Regions from separate parts of the Homo sapiens genome. Here region 1 is linked to region 2. The links come from fine-mapping of genetic effects on gene expression. A gene starts in region 2. The other region holds a variant in brackets. All regions are shown on one strand. Distances are between the middles of the regions. Region 1 holds the start of FUZ (fuzzy planar cell polarity protein). Region 2 holds the start of AP2A1 (adaptor related protein complex 2 subunit alpha 1).

Region 1 (11,780 bases), 44 kb before region 2:
AGGAGACCTGGTTGCTATGCAACGCGTACGCTGCCCTTGTTTTCGTTTTTGTGTTTTGTTTTTTGTTTGTTTGTTTTTTCGAAACGGGAGTCTCGCCCTGTCGCCCAGGCTGGAGTGCAGTGGCGCGATCTCGGCTCACTACAACCTCCGCTTCCCGGGTTCAAGCGATTCTCCTGCCTCAGCCTCCCGAGTAGCTGGGATTACAGGTGCCCGCAACCACGCCCCGCTAATTTTTGTATTTTTAGTAGAGAAAGAGTTTCACCCTGTGGGCCAGGCTGTTCTCGAACTCCTGACCTCAAGTGATTCGCCCGCCTTGGCTTCCCAAAGTGCTGAGATTACAGGCGTGAGCCACCGCGCCGGGCCCGCTGCCCTTGTTTTGTAACCGTTAGATTAAGTTTCTGGTTCTGTTCTTTCGGGCGTGGGGACTAGGGGAGGGACGCGAGAAGGATCCAATCACATCGGCGGAAACGAGGTTACTAGGCGACGCTTTAAGGTCGTCCTCAACTTGGAAGGGAGGGCAGTTGTTTTCCCCCCCGAAAAGAAGCCGAACACCAAACCAAGTGCGGGTTGCTAAGCAACACCTGAGCGTTGTTTTCTGGGAGAGGAGCCAGAAACTGGCTTAGAACGTAAATACATTCCAGGTGGATTAAAAATGTAAGTGCAACAAATGAAACCCGAAAACTATCTGAAGGGAAAAAATCTTAATGACTGCCATGGAGTTTCTTAGCACTACAGCAAAGTTAGAAAACGTAGTCTTCATTAATTTTTCCCAAAAGACTGTATAAACCAAGTTGAAAAATATACGGCCAACTGGGAAAATCTTTCTAGCGTGTTTGTTGACAGAAATGTACTACGCAAATAAATCTTACTGATGAATAACAATATAGAAAAATAGAAACACTTCATTACTATTATCTTTTAATTTTAATTTTTATTTTTTGAGGCAGGGTCTCTTTCTGTTGTGCAGGTTGAAGTGCAGTGGCCCAATCTTGGCTCACGGCAGCCTCTACTCGCACTGGAGCCACTCTTCAGCCTGTGGAGCAGCTGGGACCACAGCCGCGCACTACCACTTCCAGCTAATTTTTAAATTTTTTGTAGAGATGGGGTCTCACTGTGTTGCTCTGGCGTGTCTCAAACTCCTCGGCTAAAGCGATCCCAGGTGTTAGCCATCGTGCCCTGCCACTTTATATTTGTTTTAATAGAAAGAAACCTGACCAGGGCCGGACGCCGTGGCTCACGCTTGTAATCCCAGCACTTTGGGAGGCCAAGGCGGGCAGATCACCCGAGGTAAGGGGTTCAAGACCAGCCTGGCCAACATGGTGAAACTCCTTCTAACTACTAAAAATAAAAAAATTAGCCGTCCTGGTGGGCGTCTGTAATCCCAGCTACTTGGGAGGCTGAGTCAGGAGATTCTCCTGAACCCGGGAGGCGGAGGTTGCAGTCAACTGAGATTGTGCCACTGCATTCCAGCCTGGGCGGCAGAGTTAGACTCCGTCTCAAAAAAAATAAAAATAAATAAATAAAAAGAAACCTGACTAGTTTCACACAAACACACACACAAAATTTTGAATGGCCAGTAAATATTTTAAAACATAATCTTCGGCCGGGCGAGATGGCTCATGCCTGTAATTCCAGCACTTTGGGAGGTAGAGGCGGGCGCATCACGAGGTCAGTATCACTGGGCGTCGTGGTGCCCACCTGTAATCCCAGCAACTCGAGAGGCTGAGGCAAGGAGAATCGCTTGAACCCGGGAGGCAGAGGTTGCAGTGAGCCGAGATCACGCCACTGCACTCCAGCCTGGGCGACAGAGCGAGACTGTCTCAAAAAAAAAACAAAAAAAACAAAAAAAACAGGCCGGGCGCAGTGGCTCATGCTTGCAATCCCAGCACTTTGGGAGGCCAAGGCGGGCAGATCACGAGGTCAGGAGATCGAGACCATCCTTGCTAACACGGTGAAACCCCGTCTCTACTGAAAATCCAAAAAAAAAAAAAAAAAAATTAGCGGGGCGTGGTGGCGGGCGCCTGTAGTCCCAGCTACTCCGGAGGCTGAGGCAGGAGAATGGCGTGAACCCGGAAGGCGGAGCTTGCAGTGAACAGAGATCGCGCCACTGCACTCCAGCCTGGGGGACGGAGCGAGGCGCTGTCTCAAAAAAAAAAAAGTAATAATAATAATAATAATCACCAATTGAAAAGTACTTACAGAAAGCCTAATGATAAAGGTTTTTACCTTTATCATTTAAAATTATTTTTTATTGGGTTTCTATTTTTCTTTTATCTTTTATTTTTATTTTTATTTTTTTTTATTTTATTATTTTTTTTTTGACAAAATCTCGCTCTGTCGCCCAGACTGGAGTGCAGTGGCGCAGTGTCGGCTCGCTGCAGCCTCTGCCTCCCTGGTTCCACCGATTCTCCTGCCTCTGCCTCCCCAGTAGCTGGGACTACAGGTGTGTGCCACCTCGCAGGCAAATTTTTGTATTTTTGTTAGAGACAGGGTTTTACCATGTTGGCCAGGCTGGTCTCAAACTCCTGACCTCAGGTGATCCACCCGTTTTGGCCTCCTAGAGTGCCCGGATTATAGGCAGTGAGCCTGCGGAAGCCCTTTTTTTTTTGAGACAGTCTCATTTGCTGAAGCTTTTTTTTTTTTTTTTTTTTTGAGATGGAGTTTTGTTCTTGTTGCCCAGGCTGCAGTGCAATGGCACAGTCTCGGCTCACGGCAGCCTCCACCTCCTGGGTTCAAGCGATTATCCTGCCTCAGCCTCCCGAGTAGCTGAGTTTACAGGCATGCGCCACCACGCCCAGCTAATTTTGTATTTTTAGTAGAGCCGGGGTTTCTCCATGTTGGTCAGGCTGGTCTCGAACTCCAGACCTCAGGTGACCCGCCCACCTTGGCCTCCCAAAGTGCTGGGATTACAGGCGTAAGCCGCCGCGCCTGGCCTGCTGAAGCCTTCAAATCCATACAATCATATGATTTTACTCCTGTGTGCTTGGCAGGCATCTTTCCAATTTTATGAACACTTTCTTACATTACTAGTATGCCATTGTTACCTGTAACAAAATTAACTTCTTAGTATCATCCAACAGTAAGTGTGTAATCAAACGTTCCAATTGTCTCAAAATGTGTTTTTACAGTTGGTTTATTTGTATCAGGATCCAAACAAAGACCACACACATATTTAGACATTATGTCTCAAGTTTCTTTTCATCTAGAGCAGCCCCCTCTTTTATGCCTGTGTAACTAACATTTTAATAAAGTTGTAAGGAAGATAAAAGTAATCCAGAGAAAGGAAAAAAAATATCAATAGGCAAGAAGGAAGATTAAAATGGTACCTAGGCCAGGCATGGTGGCTCCTGCCTGTAGTCCCAGCACTTTGAGAGGCTGAGGTGGGTGGATCATTTGAGCCAAAGAGTTTGAGACCAGCTTGGGCAACATGGCGACACCCTGTCTCCACAAAAACTACAAAAATTAGCTGGACGTGGTGGGGGCACACCTGTAATCCCAGCTACTCAGGAGGCTGAGGCAGGAGAATCGCTTGAATCCTGGAGGCGGAGGTTGCAGTTAGCCGAGATGGTTCCACTGCACTCCACCTTGGGCGACAGAACGAGACCCTGTCCCCTCTCCCAAAAAAAAAAAAAAGAGAAAAAGATGTACTTTAGGAAGTAGGAAAATTAAAAATTATGCTAGAAAGATGGGCTGATCTGCAAGAAGGAAGAGGAAGGGAAAAATGAATCATAAATACTTTTGTCATTACAAGTAAATGCTGCCTGTGTAAAATAATAAAAATATTCATAAGGGCATTTTAAAAAGTCAGTAAAATGCTGTCCCAGCACTAGTTGGCTAGTCTGGAGGAGTTCAACAACCTAATGTACATCAATACAGAATTGGTCAAATCAATTTGTCACATCCATAAAATAGATTATAAAAATACATTATTAAGATGAAATAGACATACTTTTTCATGGCAAAAAAGAAAGTGTGGAAATGTTAGTATATTGATCATCTTTGTGAAAACGTATGAATAGTCTACGTTAAACTGTATTTTAGGAAAAAAATTGGGGAAGGGATTTTTCACATTTTACATGGTATGCTATCATGTATAAATTCATTACAGAAATGATATTATTTTTATTATTCTGGAAAATAAAGGATTTCCTTGTTTTCTTTTTTCTAATAACAAAAACAACCTTTTTTTTAGTGGTTACTAGGCAACGATCGCTGGACTCAACCACCCTCGAAGGTTGTAGGGGAGATGGTGTTTTTCTCGATTTCGCCCCAAGGAGGGTGCTCGGACTTCGACGTGCCGCCATCTTTGAGCAGGGCACAGCTGTTTACAGCCTTGGAATGGATATCAGGCTGAATGGTGGTTGCTTGGCAACGCCCCGCCACGGTCGCCATCTTTGAGTAGGGCACATTGTTTACTACTATATACTGGAAACCTACAGGGAATGTGGTTGCTAGGCAATGCTTTGGGACCATCGCAATCTTTGATCCGGGCACAGCTGTTTTTTCCGTTTAGAATGTAAATCATCAAAGCCTACAGGATGGTGGCTAGGCAACGCCTTGGCGCAGTCATCATCTTCAATCCGGCTTCTTGGTTCTCTTTACCTCCTCGGAGAAACTAGAAAGCTTTGCAAATTCAATTTGCCGCCATCTTTGTTAGGGGTACCGTGACTTCCGGCTAGGGCGGAAGAGAACCTAATGGGTTTGGGGGAGGTGCCTGAATAGGGTTTGAGGGTCTGTTTGAGTTGGGTGAAGAAGGCGGGAAGTTAATCCTCTTCCAATCAGCTCCCCATCTCGCCCTCTGGCGGCTCCGGACCACAGGCCGAGTTACTCTGATTACCGCCATGCTCCAAGACCCGCACTGACAGTCCCCACGTGAGGGACCGCGGTGGGAGTCCTAAATGGGGGAGGAGGGGACGGGCGGCACTGTGCATCTGCTGTGCCTCGCGGCCTCCAGCGGGGTCCCCCTATTCTGCAGGAGCAGTCGCGGCGGCGCCCCCGCCCGTCAGCAGGTGGGGCCTTGGACGCCTGTATCTAAACCGAAGGGGGTTCGGTGTTTTGACTCTGGGTCTTCAAGGCAGTAGGGGCTGGGGAAGTTTCAGTGTTGAATTTGTAGGACCGAGGAGGCAATGGACCAATAAGCCTGGTTCCCCAAAGAGGCACTGCCAGGTCATATGGAAAGAGGATGGGGCTGGGAGCTGGCACACTTGGGTCCTAAGGGGGAAGGGGATGGGGGGGTGCTCTTGTCTGATGTCCCTAACCCCTCCTTAGCTCCCGTTCTCTGTCATCGGTTCCCTCAATGGAGTCCACATGTTTGGGCAGAATCTGGAGGTGCAGCTGAGCTCTGCGAGGACCGAGAACACGACTGTGGTGTGGAAAAGCTTCCATGACAGGTCCCCAGGAGGGAACGTGGGACAGGGACAGGGCCTGGGTGATAGTCCCTGTTGAAGATGACCCCGGAGGCCTTCCAGCTCTCTAAAAGCAGCTGTTAATTTGGCTATGGGATCTTTAGCAAGCCAGTTACCCTCTTTGATCCCTGATGTTCTCTATAAGAAAGGCAGGTTGG[T/G]CTGAGAGAGGATGTATCTGGTGTTCTAGGATCAATGGGCGGACTCCAACATACCCCTTCCTGATTCCCCAGGCCTTGACTCATTCTTCTCACTTCCATTCCACAGCATCACCCTCATTGTTCTGTCATCTGAGGTGGGCATCTCTGAGCTGAGGCTGGAGAGACTACTCCAAATGGTGTTTGGAGCCATGGTGAGACTCACCAGTCCTCTTTTCTCCCCAGACCAGGAATCTGAGATCTCAGCATCCTTTTCCCTCAGACCTAGGAGTGCAGACCACCAACACTTCCTTCCTCAGAACCCAGGAATCTTTTGTTTGTTTGTTTGTTTTGTTTTGAGACGGAGTCTCGCTCTGTTGCCCAGGCTGGAGTGCAGTGGCTTGATCTCGGCTCACTGCAACCTCTGCCTCCCAGGTTCAAGCGATTCTCGTGCCTCAGCTTCCCAAGTAGCTGGGATTACAGGCACGTGCCACCATGCCCAGCTAATTTTTGTATTTTTTGTAGAGACGGGGTTTCACCATATTGGCCAGGCTGGTCTCAAACTCCTGACCTCAAGTGATCCACCCACCTTGGCCTCCCAAAGTGCTGGAATTACAGGCATGAGCCTCCGCGCCCGGCCAGAACCCAGGAATCTTGACTCCCCAGTCCCCAGACCCAGAAGTGGGAGTCCCAGCCCCCTCTTCCTTCAGACCCAGGAGTTCAAGTCCCAGCCCCTCGCCCATCCTCTCCTATATGATTCTTCTAGGTCCTTCTTGTGGGACTTGAAGAACTGACCAATATCCGCAACGTGGAGAGACTGAAGAAGGACTTGAGGGTGAGGTTGCAGGACATGAGGGTGGGAAGTTAGGATACCTGGGCACTGCCATTTGGGAACTACAGTTCCCAGCAGCCCCTGGGGCAGCCTGGTCCCACAGGTTCTTGGTTGTCTGACCCTGGGCCCACTTGAATCCTAGGCTGGTCCCTTCTTCCTCTCCTAGGCCAGTTATTGCCTCATCGACAGCTTCCTGGGGGACTCGGAGCTCATCGGGGACCTGACCCAGTGTGTGGACTGCGTGATTCCTCCAGAGGGGTCCCTCTTGCAGGTACTGGGGATGCTATGGAAACTCTTACACCTGTTCTGCTGGCCCTGGCTCAGTCCTCATCCTCTTTCTTCTGGACCATTGTCCCAACCTCCTCCTATCCTCTCAGCTTCCAGTCCTATCCCCACCTGGTCCCAGAAGAATCTTTTTTCTTTTTTTTTTTTCTTTTCTTTCTCTTTCTTTTCTTTTTTCTTTTCTTTCTCTCTTTTTATTTGAGACGTAGTTTCACTCTTGTTGCCCAGGCTGGAGTACAATGGCACCATCTCGGCTCACTGCAGCCTGCGCCTCCCGGGTTCAAGTAATTCTCCTGCCTCAGCTTCCCGAGCAGCTGGGATTACAGGCGCCCACCACTACGCCCGGCTAATTTTTTGTATTTTTAGTAGAGACAGGGTTTCACCATGTTGGCCAAGCTGGTCTCGAACTTCTTACCTCAGGTGATCCACCTGCCTTGGCCTCCCACAGTGCTGGGATGACAGGCGTGAGCCACTGCGCCTGGGCCATCTTTCTTTCTTTTCTGAGACAGGGTCTTGCTCTGTCATCCAGGCTAGAGCACAGTGGCTCAGTCATAGCTCACTGCAGCCTTGAACTCCTGGATTCAAGTGATCCTCTCATCTCAGCCTCCCCAGTAGCTGACACTATAGGCACTGTGCCACCACATTCAGCTATTTTTTTTTTTTTTTTTTTTTTGAGACAGAGTCTTACACTGTCACAGGGGCTGGAGTGCAATGGCGCAATCTTGGCTCACTGCAACCTCTGCCTCCTGGGTTCAAACGATTCCCCTGCCTCAACCTCCCGAGTAGCTAGGATTATAAGCGCTGGTCACCACGCCTGGCCCAGCTAATTTTTTGTATTTTTAGTAGAGACAGGGTTTCACTATGTTGGCCAGGCTGGTCTTGAACGCCTGACCTCGTGATCCACCCGCCTCAGCCTCCCAAAGTGCTGGGATTACAGGCATGAGCCACCGCGCCCGGCTGACATTCAGCTATTTTTTTTTTTAAGAGATGGACTAGGGTTGGGGATGGGTTTCCATTAAGTTGCCCGGGCTGGTCTCGAACTCCTGGGCTCAAGCAGTCCTCCCGCCTCAGCCTCCCATAGTGCTGGGATGACAGGTGTGAGCCATCACACCCGGCCACCAGAAGAACCCTACTATATCCAGAGCTGGCTCTGCCCCTTTCCTGCTCACAGCCCTCCGGCAGCCTCCACCTCCCCCAGGACAAGGTCCCAGCTCCTCAGCCTGGTGTTTGAAGGCCTGTGGCACCTGGCACCCCCTAACCTGTTGCTAAATCCACAGTCTACTTCCACCCAGCTACCTCACAGTCCTGAGATCCCAACAAGTTTCCAACCTCAGTGCATGTTCTTCCTCCTGCCTCTCAGATCTCTAGCTACCTCTACTTAAATACTGCTCTTGTGGACTTGCCTGGTGTGGCGGCCTCCCAGGCATGTGACTCTCAGCAGGTGACTTGGCTTCTCTACGTTGCTAATGGTGCCTACTCGGCATGTAACAGGCCTGGATGAACGGTAGCTGCTGCGGTTACATTATTAGCTTCAGTTTGCCCGCCCAGGCTAGATGTTTAATCAGATTTCACAGACTTCACAGTGTGAGTTGGGGATGTGACTTCGTATGAAAGTGAAGGAACTCAGGCTCAGAGAGGGTGAGACGTAGGAGCATGGCCACTGCGCGAGCTCGGGGCTGGCTGTGGGTTTCTCCCCATTCCCTGCCCATCTGGGAAGTCGCTGCCACCCCCTACGCTTGTCTGCTGACTCCCAGTCCTCCTGCCTCCCGTACCCAGGAAGCCCTCTCCGGGTTCGCTGAGGCCGCGGGCACGACCTTCGTCAGTCTGGTGGTGTCCGGCCGGGTGGTGGCAGCAACAGAGGGTTGGTGGCGGCTGGGGACGCCCGAGGCCGTGCTGCTCCCCTGGCTGGTGGGGTCCCTGCCGCCGCAGACCGCTCGCGACTACCCGGTGTACCTGCCGCACGGGAGCCCCACGGTGAGTGGGTGGCGGGCACCGACGGAGGGATGTGACCTGGGGGCCGAGTCGCGAGGAGGCGGGATCTGCGATGGAAAGGGGCCGGGCCGCGATGAGCCCCAGCCTGTGCCCTGCTTCAGGTCCCACACCGGCTCCTGACCCTGACTCTGCTGCCGAGCCTGGAGCTGTGTCTACTCTGCGGGCCGAGCCCACCCCTCAGCCAGTTGTATCCACAGGTGAACCCGCGCCACGTCCCGCTTTCGCTCTTAGGACACCCGCTACCAGGAGGGCCCTTCCCCACCACCCTGCCCTGCCAGCGGCATCTTTCCCCAGCCCCGCCTCTTCTGGACTGCGCTCCAGTCATTCACCTACCCGCCAAGATCGGCCGCTCCCGCCTCTGCCTCTATTCTTCCAGGCCTCGCCCCTTCCCCAGTCCCTTCTGCCCTCCGCCCTCCACTCTTCTTGCAGGCCCCGCCCCTCCCGATTGACCACGCCCCTATCCTTGTACACCCCCCGACCTCCCCCGCCGGCCCCGCCTTCCCATGACGACCTCACAATGACCACGCCCCCTGCAGCTTCTGGAGCGCTGGTGGCAGCCACTGCTGGACCCGTTGCGGGCCTGTCTGCCGTTGGGACCCCGGGCGCTGCCCAGTGGCTTCCCCCTTCACACAGACATCCTCGGGTAGGGCTCGGATGGAGGGAGTGGGTCGGGGGTCATGTCCTCTTCCCCAGCCATGACATTCCCTTCCCTTTCCCACAGGCTGCTGCTCCTCCACCTGGAACTGAAGCGCTGCCTCTTCACCGTGGAGCCCTTGGGGGATAAAGGTGACTGAGGACAGGGGCAGGGGCAGGGGTAGGAGGGGCGTGGGCCGGGGAGGCGCTCTGCATCACCGCCTTTTCCTCCCAGCAGAGCCTTCACCAGAACAGCGCCGGCGCCTCCTCCGAAACTTCTATACCCTGGTCACCTCCACGCACTTCCCACCAGGTCAGCGGAAGGCACAGTGCTCCCACTGCGCAGGCGGGGACACTGAGTCCCAGGTCGCACAAAATGGGAGTAGGAGGTGGGGTTGGAGGATCCGGAGGAACCCAGTATGCACTGGGCCATAGGGCAGTGGTTTTCCTTGAGATCTGAGCATTGATGCAGATGGGAAGGGAGGGGAAGGGAGGTCCCCGCCTGGCTTCAGAATCTCCTGGATCATAGTCAACAATAGTTAACACTGAGACCTCACCTCTTCCCAGTGCCTTTACACGTAATGAAAGAATGAAATCACTTCATCCTCACAGGTGAGGACTATCCCATTACCTCATCATTCCCATATTACAGATGAGGAAACTGAGGCTCAGCTCATGAGTGGCAGAGCCATATTTGAACACAGGGGATCTTGCTCCCATATCCACACAGTCCAGCGCTCTGCACAACTGCCAAAAGCACAGGCTTTGCTGATAGGCTGAGGGTATGGAGGAGGATTTCACAAGATTCTGGGTTAGAACGGAAAAATTGTCGTAGAACCCTTAAGGGCCCAGAAAGACAAAGAAAGGGACCTGGGATGGCGCTGTGACCCCAGTGAAGCCCGGATGAATGCAGCACAGTGGTCAAGAGCTCCAACTCGGGGGCTGCACCCCTTCTTAGCTGTGCGACTCCACCTCCCACTGGCCCCTGCCTGTTTCCCTCCACCCGCCTTGTACAGTGGGGCGGGTGGGCTCCTGGAAAAGGCTACAGGAGCTCCTGTGTTGCTGCCGTGTTCGCCATGTGTATTGCTAAGAGGATCACCTGCAGCTGCACAGTTTCTCCAGGAAAATGGGGGCCAAGGCTGAGAAAGAGGAAGAGGGTGAGCTGAGTGACATCATTGTGGTCTTCAAGTTGCTGACAGCCAGCTAGAGCCCCGAGGCCCTCCCCTGGCAGGAGGCTCCCAAAACCTGTGTTCAGAGACCCCACGCGTTCAGAACTTGGGATCAGGATGTGGTGTGGCTTGCAAAGGTTAGCATGCTACTTGTCATGTCAGTGCCCCCTGTTCTTTCTCCAGAGCCAGGGCCACCAGAGAAGACAGAAGATGAGGTCTACCAGGCCCAGCTGCCCAGAGCTTGCTACCTGGTGTTGGGGACTGAGGAACCAGGCACAGGAGTGCGTCTGGTGGCCTTGCAGCTGGGGCTTCGGCGGCTGCTGCTGCTGCTGTCTCCCCAGAGTCCCACCCATGGGCTGCGAAGCCTGGCCACCCACACTCTGCATGCCCTCACCCCACTTCTTTGACTACCTAGCAGTGGGTGATGGACACAGACATGGGGCTGTTAGCGTCTCTCTGTTTATTCGCTCACAATAATACACAGCCCCTGGATGGGGAGGGGGTAGGAGGGGCTACAACAGGGTGGGGTGGGAGGGGAGGAGACATCCACTTCCCTGGCCCCTCTCCCCTCTGTGCTTGGGGGGGAAAGGGAGGGAGGGGGACTCCCCCTAACCCCCCAGAATGTAAACAGCAGCAGATGAACAAAAATAAAAATACAAAAGGCCGGAGGAAAGTCCCAGGCATCCCCCAAACCCTGGTGTCTTCTCTGTCACCAGTGGAGGTCCCCCATCCACCAAAACTGCCTCAGTCCAAGGGGCTGCCCAGTGCCGGCCACATCCCCCGGGGCAGAGTCCAGGGCTCAGAACTGCTGTGCCAGCAGCTCACACAGGTGACGGGAGACGGGCTCCTTGCTGGTGCGCAGGGTCAGCCGGTACATCTGGGTGGGGGCATTGGGGGCAGAACTCAGAGGAGATGGGGAGCCCAGGGAAGTCGGGACCCAAGGGAGATAGAAGGAAGGAAGGATAAAGGGGCCAGAAAGGTGATACAAGACACAGGAGAGAAAAATGTAAGACTGAAATCAACAGAGGCGCCAGAGAGGAAGAAAATTATAAAAGATGAGAGAAAGGTGGAAAGGATATGGAAAGGTAGAAATCAGGGAGGGACAGGAAGAGGAGAGGAACACCAGAGGTTGGAGACAGGAGATTAAACTGATAGATAAAGAGGAGTAAAAGTGGACAAAGAAATGTGAGAGGAGGAGGGTCAAAGTGGGGACGTGAATTAAAGAACAGTGAGGCAGGAAGGGTGGACGCAGAGATGACAGGCGGCCTTCCTGCCGGCCTCAGGCCTCCCACAGCAGCACTCACCTGGGCCTGGGCATTGGGCTCCAGCCGAA
Region 2 (9,611 bases):
AATTCTTGAAAATAGAGAAGGGGGCCAGGCACTGAGCCTCACTCCTGTAATCCCAGCACTTCGGGAGGCCGAGGTAGGCAGATCACTTGAGCCCAGGAATTTGAGACCAGCCCGGGCAACATAATAAAAACCCATCTCCGTGAACCCGGGAGGTGGAGCTTGCAGTGAGCGGAGATCGCGCCACTGCACTCCAGCCTGGGCGACAGAGCAAGACTCCATCTCAAAAAAAAAAAAAAAAAAAAAAAAAAAAAAACTCTATGAAAAATACAAAAAAATTTGCTGGGCATGATGGCATGTGCCTATAGTCCCAGCTACTTAGGAGGCTGAGGCGGGAGGATAGCTTGATCCCAGGAGGAGGAGGTTGCAGCGAGCTGAGATCGCACCACTGTACTCCAGCCGGGATGACAGAGCCAGACTCTGTCAAAAAAAAGAAAGAGAGACAGGGTCTTGCTATGTTGCCAAGGCTGGTCTCAAATTCCTGGCCTCAAGCAATCCTTCTGCCTCCACCTCCTGAGTAGCTGGGACTAGATAGAGATGCCCGCCATGGCGTCCGGAAGTCAGGACCTTTGCACTTGCCCCGCCTCTGCCTTCACAGCTCTTCTCACTGCCCTCAGCCTAGGTAACTCCCCTACTTCCTGCCCACACAGCTCCAAAGGTCTCTTGTGAAGCAAAGCCAGGCCGCAGCTCGCTGACCACACAGAATCCCCATTCTCTCAACACCATGGCCCTCTTCCTCACTGGGCTTAGGACAGCTGCAAATTCTTTCCCCATTTAAAAAAAAATCGAGATACGGCCAGGCGCGGTGGCTCACACCTGTAATCTCAGCATTTTGTGAGGCTGAAGCAGGCAGATCACTCGAGATCAGGAGTTCGAGACCAGCCTGGCCAACATGGTGAAACCCTGTCTCTACTAAAAATACAAAAATCAGCGGGGCATAGTGGCGGGCGCCTATAATCCCAGCTACTCGGGAGGCTGAGGCAGGAGAATCGCTTGAACCTGGGAAATGGAGGGTGCAGTGAGCCAAGATCGCGCCATTTTTGTGACTGTCACAAAAAAAAAGAGATACAATTCACATACCATAAAATTGACCCTTTTACAGTGAACAATTCAGCGTTCTTTAGTACATTCATGATGTTGTGCAACCATTACTACTATCGAATTCCAGGACCTTTCTTTTTTTTTTTTTTTTTTTTTTTAAGAGATGAGGTTTCACTATGTGGCCCGGGCTGGATTCGAACTCCTGGGTTCAAATGATCCTCCTACCTCAGTCTCCCAAGTAGCTGGGACTACAAGCATGTGCCGTGTCCAGCTGTAGGCTTTTTCATGAACCCAAAAGAAGCTCTGAATGCTGCCGGGCATGGTAGCTCACACCTGTAATCCTAGCACTTTGGAAGGCTGGGGTAGTGGATCACCTGAGGCCAGGAGTTCGAGACCATCCTGACCAACATGTAAAAACCCCGTCTCTACTAAAAGTACAAAAATTAGCCAGGTGTGGTGGCACACGCCTGTAATCCCAGCTACTCAGGAAGCTGAGGCAGGAGAATCGCCTGAACTTGGGAGGCAGAGGTTGCAGTAAGCCGAGATCACCCCATTGCACTCCAGCCTGGGCGACAGAGTGAGACTCCATCTCAAAAAATAAAAAAAGAACCTATGCATTCATGAGCAGTCACTCCCCATCCCACCAGCCCCTACTCTAGGCAACCACTAATCTTTCTGTCTCCATGGATCTGCCTATTCAAGATACTCTATCAACATGGAATCATACAACACGTGGCCTCCTGTGTCTGGCTTCTTTCACTTGGTGTCATGTTTTCAAGGTCCATCCCTGTGGCAGCATGTAGCAGGACGTCATTATTTTTTAAGGCCCGGTAATATTCCACTACATAGACCACACTTTATTTCTCAGTTGATGGGCATTTGGCCCGTTTCTGTTTTCCGGCTATCATGAATAATGTTGCAGTGAACATCCGTGTCCAGGTATTAGTGTGAAGGACTACTGCAATTTGTATGTTGCACCTTCTCCCCCACAGGGCTGGGAGCTTCATGGAGGGGGTGGACAAGTCTGTCCTGTTCACCAGTGTCCCCAGCATTCAGCACAATTCTTGAGACATACCAGCCGTTCAACATACGCTTGCTAAGAAAAGGCTCCTGATTCTCCAGCCCTAATTCCTGTGGCTAAATTACTACCAGTGCCCCAAGCCTGCATCTCCCCTCTGTCCTCTGGCTCGTCTCTGGGGTCCTGCAGTGACGGGACGATCTCTTTCCTTCCCCAACCCCCATCATCAAATCCCTTTGCAAATCCTGACAGTTTTTCCTTCAAGTTGTATCCCAGGCTGGGTGCAGTGGCTCACGCTTATAATGCCAGCACTTTGGGAGGCCAAGGCGGGCAGATCACTTGAGGTTGGGAGTTCGAGACCAGCCTGGCCAACATGGGGAAACCCTGCGTCTACTAAAAATACAAAAATTAGCCAAGCGTGGTGGCGGGTGCCTGTAATCCCAGCTACCGGGGAGGCTGAGGCACGAGAATTGCTTGAACCTGGGAGGCGGAGGTTGCAGTGAGGTATGATCGTGCCACTGCACTCCAACCTGGGCAACAGAGACTGTCTCGGAAAAAAAAATGTATCACCAACCCATTTCTCACCAGTCCCTTCTCACCCTGTTAAGCCAGCACCATCTCTCACCCAGAGGCCTGCAACACCCTCCTAATTTGGTTCCCTGCTTCCATGGCTACCTCTAGAATCTGTTCTCACAGCAGCCAGAGGAATTATCTTAAAACATCAATCGGTCACATCCCTCCCCTGCTCAAAATATTCTCATGCAGACAAAGGCCAAAGTGCTCACCATGGCCCAGAAAGCCTTTCCCGATCCTGTTCCCACTCCCCTCCACACCCGCCCTCTCTCCCCTTCACTCCCACAGCTTCAGCCACACTGACCTTCTCCCTCTCGCTCGAACACATGTCAAGCATGCCGCAACCTCAGGACCTCTGAATGCACCTCCCTGTGCCAGGACCCCTTTCCTCCAAAATCCACAGGGCTTGCTCCACTCAGATATGACTTCCTCCACGAGGCCTACTGAGTACCCTCTCCATCCTAGTCCCTCTCCCGACCATTTCCTCCTTATTTTTCTTCACAGAACCAGTCAGGTCCTGAGGTTGTATATCAGGGTGTTCCCTGTGCATATGTTCTGTCTTCCTCGGGGAAGGGAGCTCCCAAGGACAGGAGTTTCTTTTTCTTTTTTTTTATTTTTGGAGACGGAGTTTCACTCTTGTTGCCCAGCCTGGAGTGCAATGGTGTGAATCTCGGCTCATTGCAACCTCTGCCTCCCGGGTTCAAGCGATTCTCCTGCCTCAGCCTCCTGAGTAGCTGGGATTACAGGCACCCACCACCACACCTGGCTAATTTTTGTATTTTTAGTAGAGATGGAGTTTCACCATGTTGGCCAGGTTGGTCTTGAACTCCTGACCTCAGGTGATCCGCCTACCTCGGCCCCCCAAAGTGCTGGGATGACAGGCATGAGCCACCATGACCAGCAAGAACAGGAATTTCTGTTCACTATTGTCACCCCAGTACCTAGAACAGGGCCTGGACAACACTAGAGCAATCAAAAAGTATTTGTCAAGTGAATGAATGAATAAATGAGCCTTCAGAGGCAAGACACTGTTATGAATGAAGTTTGCAGACAAGAAAACGTCCTGAAAGAGGTTAAACAACTCGTGGAGGGTCACATCCCTGGTGGGTAACAGAGGCAGCCCCCGTCTGCTAACAGTGGCTCCCAGCTCCTCCACAACCCCCATAGCCCCGCCCCTTATCATAACAAGTGATCATTTCTCCTCCAACTGATACTCAACTGTTTCCACCCTCCTGTTCCCTGAGCACCTATTACATGCCAGATCCTTCCATAACAGTTAAATTCTAAAACAACAACCATCACTGGGTACTTTACAGGGCTGCTGTTCAGAGCCAACGGAGTAAAAACAATAGCCAAGTTCCATCTGGGGCCTGGAACGAGTGAAAGGCCTGAGGGGCATTGTCACAAGCCCCTCAGGAAGATACTATCAGCAGTCTCTCTTGACAGATGAGGAAACCGAGAGGTGAAGTCCCTCATTCAAGGTCACACAGCCAGGGAGTGGCAGTGCTCAAACGCAAACCCAAGTCTGGCTGACCCCAGAGCCCATGCGGATGCAGCCTCTGAAGACTCCTGGCAGCTCCAATCACCCACAGCCATTCCCAGGAGTTGAGAGCTGACTTGCCGCCAGGATTCCCATCGTCACGACAACTCTTCCTGGCAGGGACCACCGTCCCCATATTACTGTGGTCAAATAGAAAAGGGCTCAGATCCCTGCCTGTCCTGCTGCCTGACCCCTGACCTCTCTCTGGGATTAGACTTCCCCTATTCCCAGCTTTCCAGATATCTACCCCTCAAGCACTTCAGAACCCAACGCCTTCCTTGAGGTCTGGGCGCTCCTTCTTCTACCCTTTCCCCAATCCCCTACTCTAATGTCCTCTTCTTTCCTGGCCCCCCGTTCCCTGTCACAGGTTCTCCCAAGACCTTACACCGACAGCTCTTTTCCTCTGTGTTCCTTGGGTCCCTCCTTTCCCCTCAGCTGCCCCTCTAGCCCCCTCCACACTGCCTTCCATGTCTTCTAGGCAATCTCCCACCCTGAAGCCCCTCTATCCTTCACCAGGGTGTCCTTATAGTCTCCCCGTCCCATCATCTCCCTGCCCCAAACTCATGGACTTTCAACCACTCTCAGGCCTCCTCTATACCACTGGCCAGGAGCCTCGGTGACCTATCTAACCCCTTTCCCCTGTATGACACCCCCTATCCCAGGTCCTCAAGCCCTGCTTCATTAGGCTTCCGGCATTCCACTTCCTCCAGGTCCCCTCTGGCCTCTTCCCATTCCATCGCTCCACAGGGCACCCCCGCCATACACTTCTTTCACTTCTTCTCTACATTGGGAATCCCTCTAACCCCATCGTTTGTAAGATCCCCCAGCTTTTCAGTCTTTCCCAGGGGACACCTCTATGCTCCCATCCCCGGGACCTCACTGGCTTCCTCCCCTTTCAAGCCCTCCCGGACCCCTCTAGCTACTCCGTGTCGTCACCTCAAGAGGCACTCTATGACACCCCAAGCCCCTACGTGCCCCCCACTCTAAAGTTCTTCCTGGGGCCCATCTATGCTGTCCCTATACGGCCGCAGAGGCTTTTGATCCCCCGGGTCCCTCTGTGATCCCCAAACCCCTCAATTTCACGCTCCCCCCTCCCCCGCGTCTCCAGTGTCCCCCGGCCGCGCGCTCACAGTTCCGGATGTCGGAGATGAACACCGCGAGCCCCCGCATCCCATCGCCCTTGGACACGGCCGGCATGATGGCGGTGGTGTCGGCTCCAGGCCTGGCCGGACAGGGCACAGAGCAGCGGGGGCTGGCAAGCGGGGACCGGGCGGAAAGGACCCCAGGCAGCGCCAAGGAGCCGAGCCGGCCGCGGGGAGGGCTGGCTGGCGGGCGGGCGGGCGGGCTGGCAGGCCGTGGCACCGCCCCCTGCCCCTCCCCTCCGCCCGCGGTCCGGAGCTCTGAGCCGCCCACTGGCTTGAGCTCCTGCCGCTCACAGGCGGGTTTCTCCCCCACTTCCTCTCTCATTGGCCGCCAAGCAAAGGCACGACGCTACGATTGGCCCAGTGTTCCGCTATTTCCGTTTGGGAGCTGGGGAGGGGGGGGAGGAGGCGTTGCCCGAGAGACGGGCGGGGTTCGATTGCGTATCATGGGCCCGCCCCCTCCGCGCGGCCAGGTCAAACACTGATTGGATCTAGCGGCTCTCCAAGGAGGAAGGGAGGGACGTGAAGGAAGGCGGGGAACGGTCCTAGGAGGCGGGACTTAGGTTGACTGGGACCAATGAACGGGTAGACCTGCCCCGCAGGCGTCGCGGATTGGCGAGATCTGTCCTACTTCAGCCCTCCATTGGGCGGCTGTGGGGCGGGCGGAAGGCGAAGATCAGTAGAGAAGGAAAGAGGGGAGGGTGTCACTCCGCTCGGCTGGGATAGGTGGAGCGACGCCTGCAATTCCCTGCTGCAGAGAAGGGGTTGGGCGAGGCAAGAGAGCGTGCGGTGTTTACTGCGCAAGCGTCTCCGTGTTCCCTTTCTCCCTCCACTGTCACCCCCGACTGCTGAAATCCTCTTCTAGGAAGCCTTCCTCCCCTCCCCCCTTCTCTGCAGCCAACGTGTCGGGACTTGAGTTGTCAGGAGACCTAGAATCTCAGAGTGAAAAACAGTAATTCAAGGCTAGTCCCATTAAGCAGAAGTTAAAACTTAGGTCGAGAGGGCGAATGACTTGCCCAGGGCCACACAGCTTGGAAGTGAAAAAGCAGAAATAAACGTAAACCGTATCTTGGCTTACTTTTCAATATATGTTGCCTTTTTTTTTTTGTCCAACCGCAGTGTCTCTCGGGCAGCCTCCATTGTAGCAGATATCAAACCAAAATTGATTGTCTCCTCCAGACTGGGAACTCCTTCTGGGCAAGAATGGGACCTGGCCTTGAACAGTTTCAACAACATTTGTTAAAAGAAGAAATAGGTGAATCTGCTTTGGCCCAGCCCCAGCCTCCATCCCCAACCCCCAGCTCCCCAGAGACTCTTTGGTAAACTGGCTTTGGGGAAGGCAAAACGGCCAGAACTCCCAACGCCCCAGGAGATTGAGAAATTTGGGACAAAGGGAACTGGAAGAGTCCATTTCTGTCACCTGTAGGAACAAAACTCCACCCCATCAGCCTTTTCTAATCTCAGAAGCCAAGAATTCCTGGAATGAGCCTTGGGGGTGTGTTCTGGACCTTTGGAATGGCCATTCTGAATCCTGGGAGATGGAAAGGAGGTTGAGAAGAGCCCACCTTCCAGGCTCAATGGATGCGTCCATTTGGGTTTCCAGGAATGGGGCCTGGGAAAGTCCATTTTGGATTCCAGGAGGACAGAAATTGCTCAGCTGTTTTAGTCACAGGGAGAGTCCATTTCTAATATGGGAGGGGGGTGCTGTTTGCCCCTGAAGAACATAAAGCAGCCCCATTAAACACAAGAAAAATTATTAATCCCAGGACTTGAAGTTCTTTTTTTTTTTTTTTGAGATGGAGTCTCGCTCTGTCGCCCAGGCTGGGGTGCAGTGGCGCGATCTCAGCTCACTGCAACCTCCGCCTCCCGGGTTCACGCCATTCTCCTGCCTCAGCCTCCCAAGTAGCTGGGACTACAGGCGCACGCCACCATGCCTGGCTAATTTTTTGTGTTTTTAGTAGAGACGGGGTTTCACCGTGTTAGCCAGGATGGTCTCGATCTCCTGACCTTGTGATCCGCCCACCTCGGCCTCCCAAAGTGCTGGAATTACAGGCGTGAGCCACTGCGCCCGGCCTTTTTTTTTTTTCTTTTTTTTGAGACAGAGTCTCTCTCTGTCCCCCAGGCTGGAGTTCAGTGACTCAATCTCGGCTCACTGTAACCTCTTCCTCCCGAGTTAAAGCGATTTTCCTGCCTCAGCCTCCTAAGTAGCTGGGATTACAGGCACCCGTCATCATGCTCGCCTAATTTTTGTATTTTTGTAGAGACAGTGTTTCACTATGTTGGCCAGGCTGGTCTTGAACTCCTAACCTCAGGTGATCCGCCCGCCTCGGCCTCCCAAAGTGCTGGGATTACAGGTGTGAGACACCGCGCCCAGCCAGGAGTTCTTTATTATAGAAAGATTAAGTGTTCCAAGAACTGGAGTCCATTCATGACCAGGAAGAAGTACTTTCTCCCTGGGGATAACAGCATTTAAAATGTCTATTAGCAGTGATGTTTGAACTAGTCTTTTTGAGAAGTGTGAAGAGAACAGGAAAAGTCTGTCCCTAAATAGCAGGGCAGTGCTCGCTTCGACAGCACATGTATTAACATTGGAACGATACAGAGAAGATTAGCATGGGCCCTGCGCAAAGACCACATGCAAATTTGTGACATGTTCCATATATTTTTTAAATACTTTGGGCGGGCGGGGCGCAGTGGCTCACACCTGTAATTCCAATGCTTTGGGAGGCTGAAGTGGGCAGATCACGAGGTCAGGAGTTGGAGACTAGCCTAGCCAACACAGTGAAACCCTGTCTCTACTAAAAATACAAAAAAAAAATTAGATGGGTGTGGTGGCAGGTACCTGTAGTCCCAGCTACTCAGGAGGCTGAGGCAGGAGAATCGCTTGAAACTGGGAGGTAGAGGTTGCAATGAGCCAAGATCACGCCACTGCACTCCAGCCTGGGTGTCAGAGCGAGACTCCATCTAAAAAAAAAAAAAAAAAATTATAGCGGAGCATGGTGGCTCATGTCTGTAATCCCACACTTTGGGAGGCTAAGGCGGGTGGACCATTTGAGGTCGGGAGTTTGAGACCAACTTGGCCAACATGGTGAAACCCGTCTCTACTAAAAATACAAAAATTAGCCGGACATTGTGGCCAGCGCCTGTAGTCCCAGCTACTGGGGAGGCTGAGGCAGGAGAATCGGTTGAACCCCGGGAGGTGGAGGTTGCAATGAGCTGAGATCGCGCCACTGAACTCCAGCCTCCATGACAGAGAGAGACTCTGTCTCAAAAAAAATAAAAAGTATTAAAGAAAATAATAAATAAATAAACGGGGGAGGGGGATACCACCCTCTGTCCTGCCCCAACTCTCTACCTTCCTCTCCTCCCTCACCTTCTACCCTGACCCCGAGGCCCACCGCACCTAGCTTTCTTTTGTTGATCTACCTGTATATTGCCTTTCCCCCGACCCCGACGCCCCATAGAATATGAGACCCTCCAGGTCAGGGTCTGGATCTCAGCCCTCTTCGACCACAGTCTCTCAAACCCCAGCCAATTGTCAAATCCAGGAAGCTACATGAAGAATCAAGAACAAGTGCACAGGGCTGTGTGACCCCACGCTTAGTCTCAGGGAGAGGGAAGTTGGACCTCTCCCAAGAATCCGTGGGCCGACCCATTGTTAAGTTACAGGCTAGCATGAATCCATCCACTGGAGCTCTGAAGACGGGGGGCACATTGGGCATGTAACTAGAATCCTGAACAGGAGGAGTCCACTGAGAACCCTAGGGGAATGACCTGGGCCAGCATCTCTCCCTACCCTGTGCCCCCCACTCACTGGGGCCCAGTGGTTGGGTCCTTTGTGAGGCAGGCTGAGGGGACAGTGGATCCTGAGGGTCTGTGGTCACAGTAGGTAGGAAGTCTCAGAGGAAGGAGCCCCTCCCTGGGAGCCAGACCCCCACACCATGGCGAGCGTGGTGGTGAAGACGATCTGGCAGTCCAAAGAGATCCATGAGGCCGGGGACACCCCCACGGGGGTGGAGAGCTGCTCCCAGCTAGTCCCAGAGGCTCCCCGGAGGGTGACCAGCCGGGCCAAGGGGATCCCGAAGAAAAAGAAGGCCGTGTCGTTCCACGGGTGGGTTTGTTGCACACTGTCAGGGATGGTTCTAATGCCCAGCACTACCTCCAACAGAGCAGGAGTCCGACTGTGGGTGCTAGAGGAAGGGGAGGGGGAAAAGCCAGCAGGTCGGGGGCAGGAAAGAGGGCAGCAGTGAAGAGACATCAAGTCACAGGGAGGTAGAGAGGAAGAAGGTAATGGGGATGG

Evidence for each region. PIP is the estimated chance that this variant, and not a neighbour inherited with it, causes the effect.
Region 1: its variant is fine-mapped to the expression of AP2A1 in pancreas (GTEx, PIP 0.94).

The regions. Positions count from the first base shown.
Region 1 is chr19:49,806,225-49,818,004 of GRCh38, reverse strand. FUZ (fuzzy planar cell polarity protein) reads left to right here and starts at 4,713. Exons shown (of 11, transcript NM_025129.5): 1 at 4,713-5,009; 2 at 5,269-5,390; 3 at 5,670-5,754; 4 at 6,306-6,374; 5 at 6,538-6,642; 6 at 8,430-8,627; 7 at 8,747-8,842; 8 at 9,182-9,288; 9 at 9,367-9,431; 10 at 9,517-9,591; 11 at 10,631-11,139. The coding sequence starts at 4,899. The coding sequence ends at 10,854. It overlaps LOC105372435 (a long non-coding RNA gene), which reads right to left and starts at 9,085. Exons shown (of 2, transcript NR_187900.1): 1 at 8,979-9,085; 2 at 8,179-8,692. It overlaps AP2A1 (adaptor related protein complex 2 subunit alpha 1), which reads right to left. Exons shown (of 23, transcript NM_130787.3): 22 at 11,752-11,780; 23 at 10,891-11,324. The coding sequence ends at 11,247. RefSeq lists enhancers at 1-157, 4,150-4,199, 4,410-4,649, 4,036-4,842, 8,859-8,958 and a silencer at 8,509-8,678. The variant T/G (reference allele first, on the strand shown) is at 5,564.
Region 2 is chr19:49,762,889-49,772,499 of GRCh38, reverse strand. It overlaps AP2A1 (adaptor related protein complex 2 subunit alpha 1), which reads right to left and starts at 5,499. Exons shown (of 23, transcript NM_130787.3): 1 at 5,300-5,499. The coding sequence starts at 5,366. TSKS (testis specific serine kinase substrate) reads left to right here and starts at 9,194. Exons shown (of 11, transcript NM_021733.2): 1 at 9,194-9,422. The coding sequence starts at 9,253. It also overlaps the pseudogene RNU6-841P. RefSeq lists enhancers at 171-1,095, 5,035-5,803, 5,857-6,834 and a silencer at 5,365-5,944.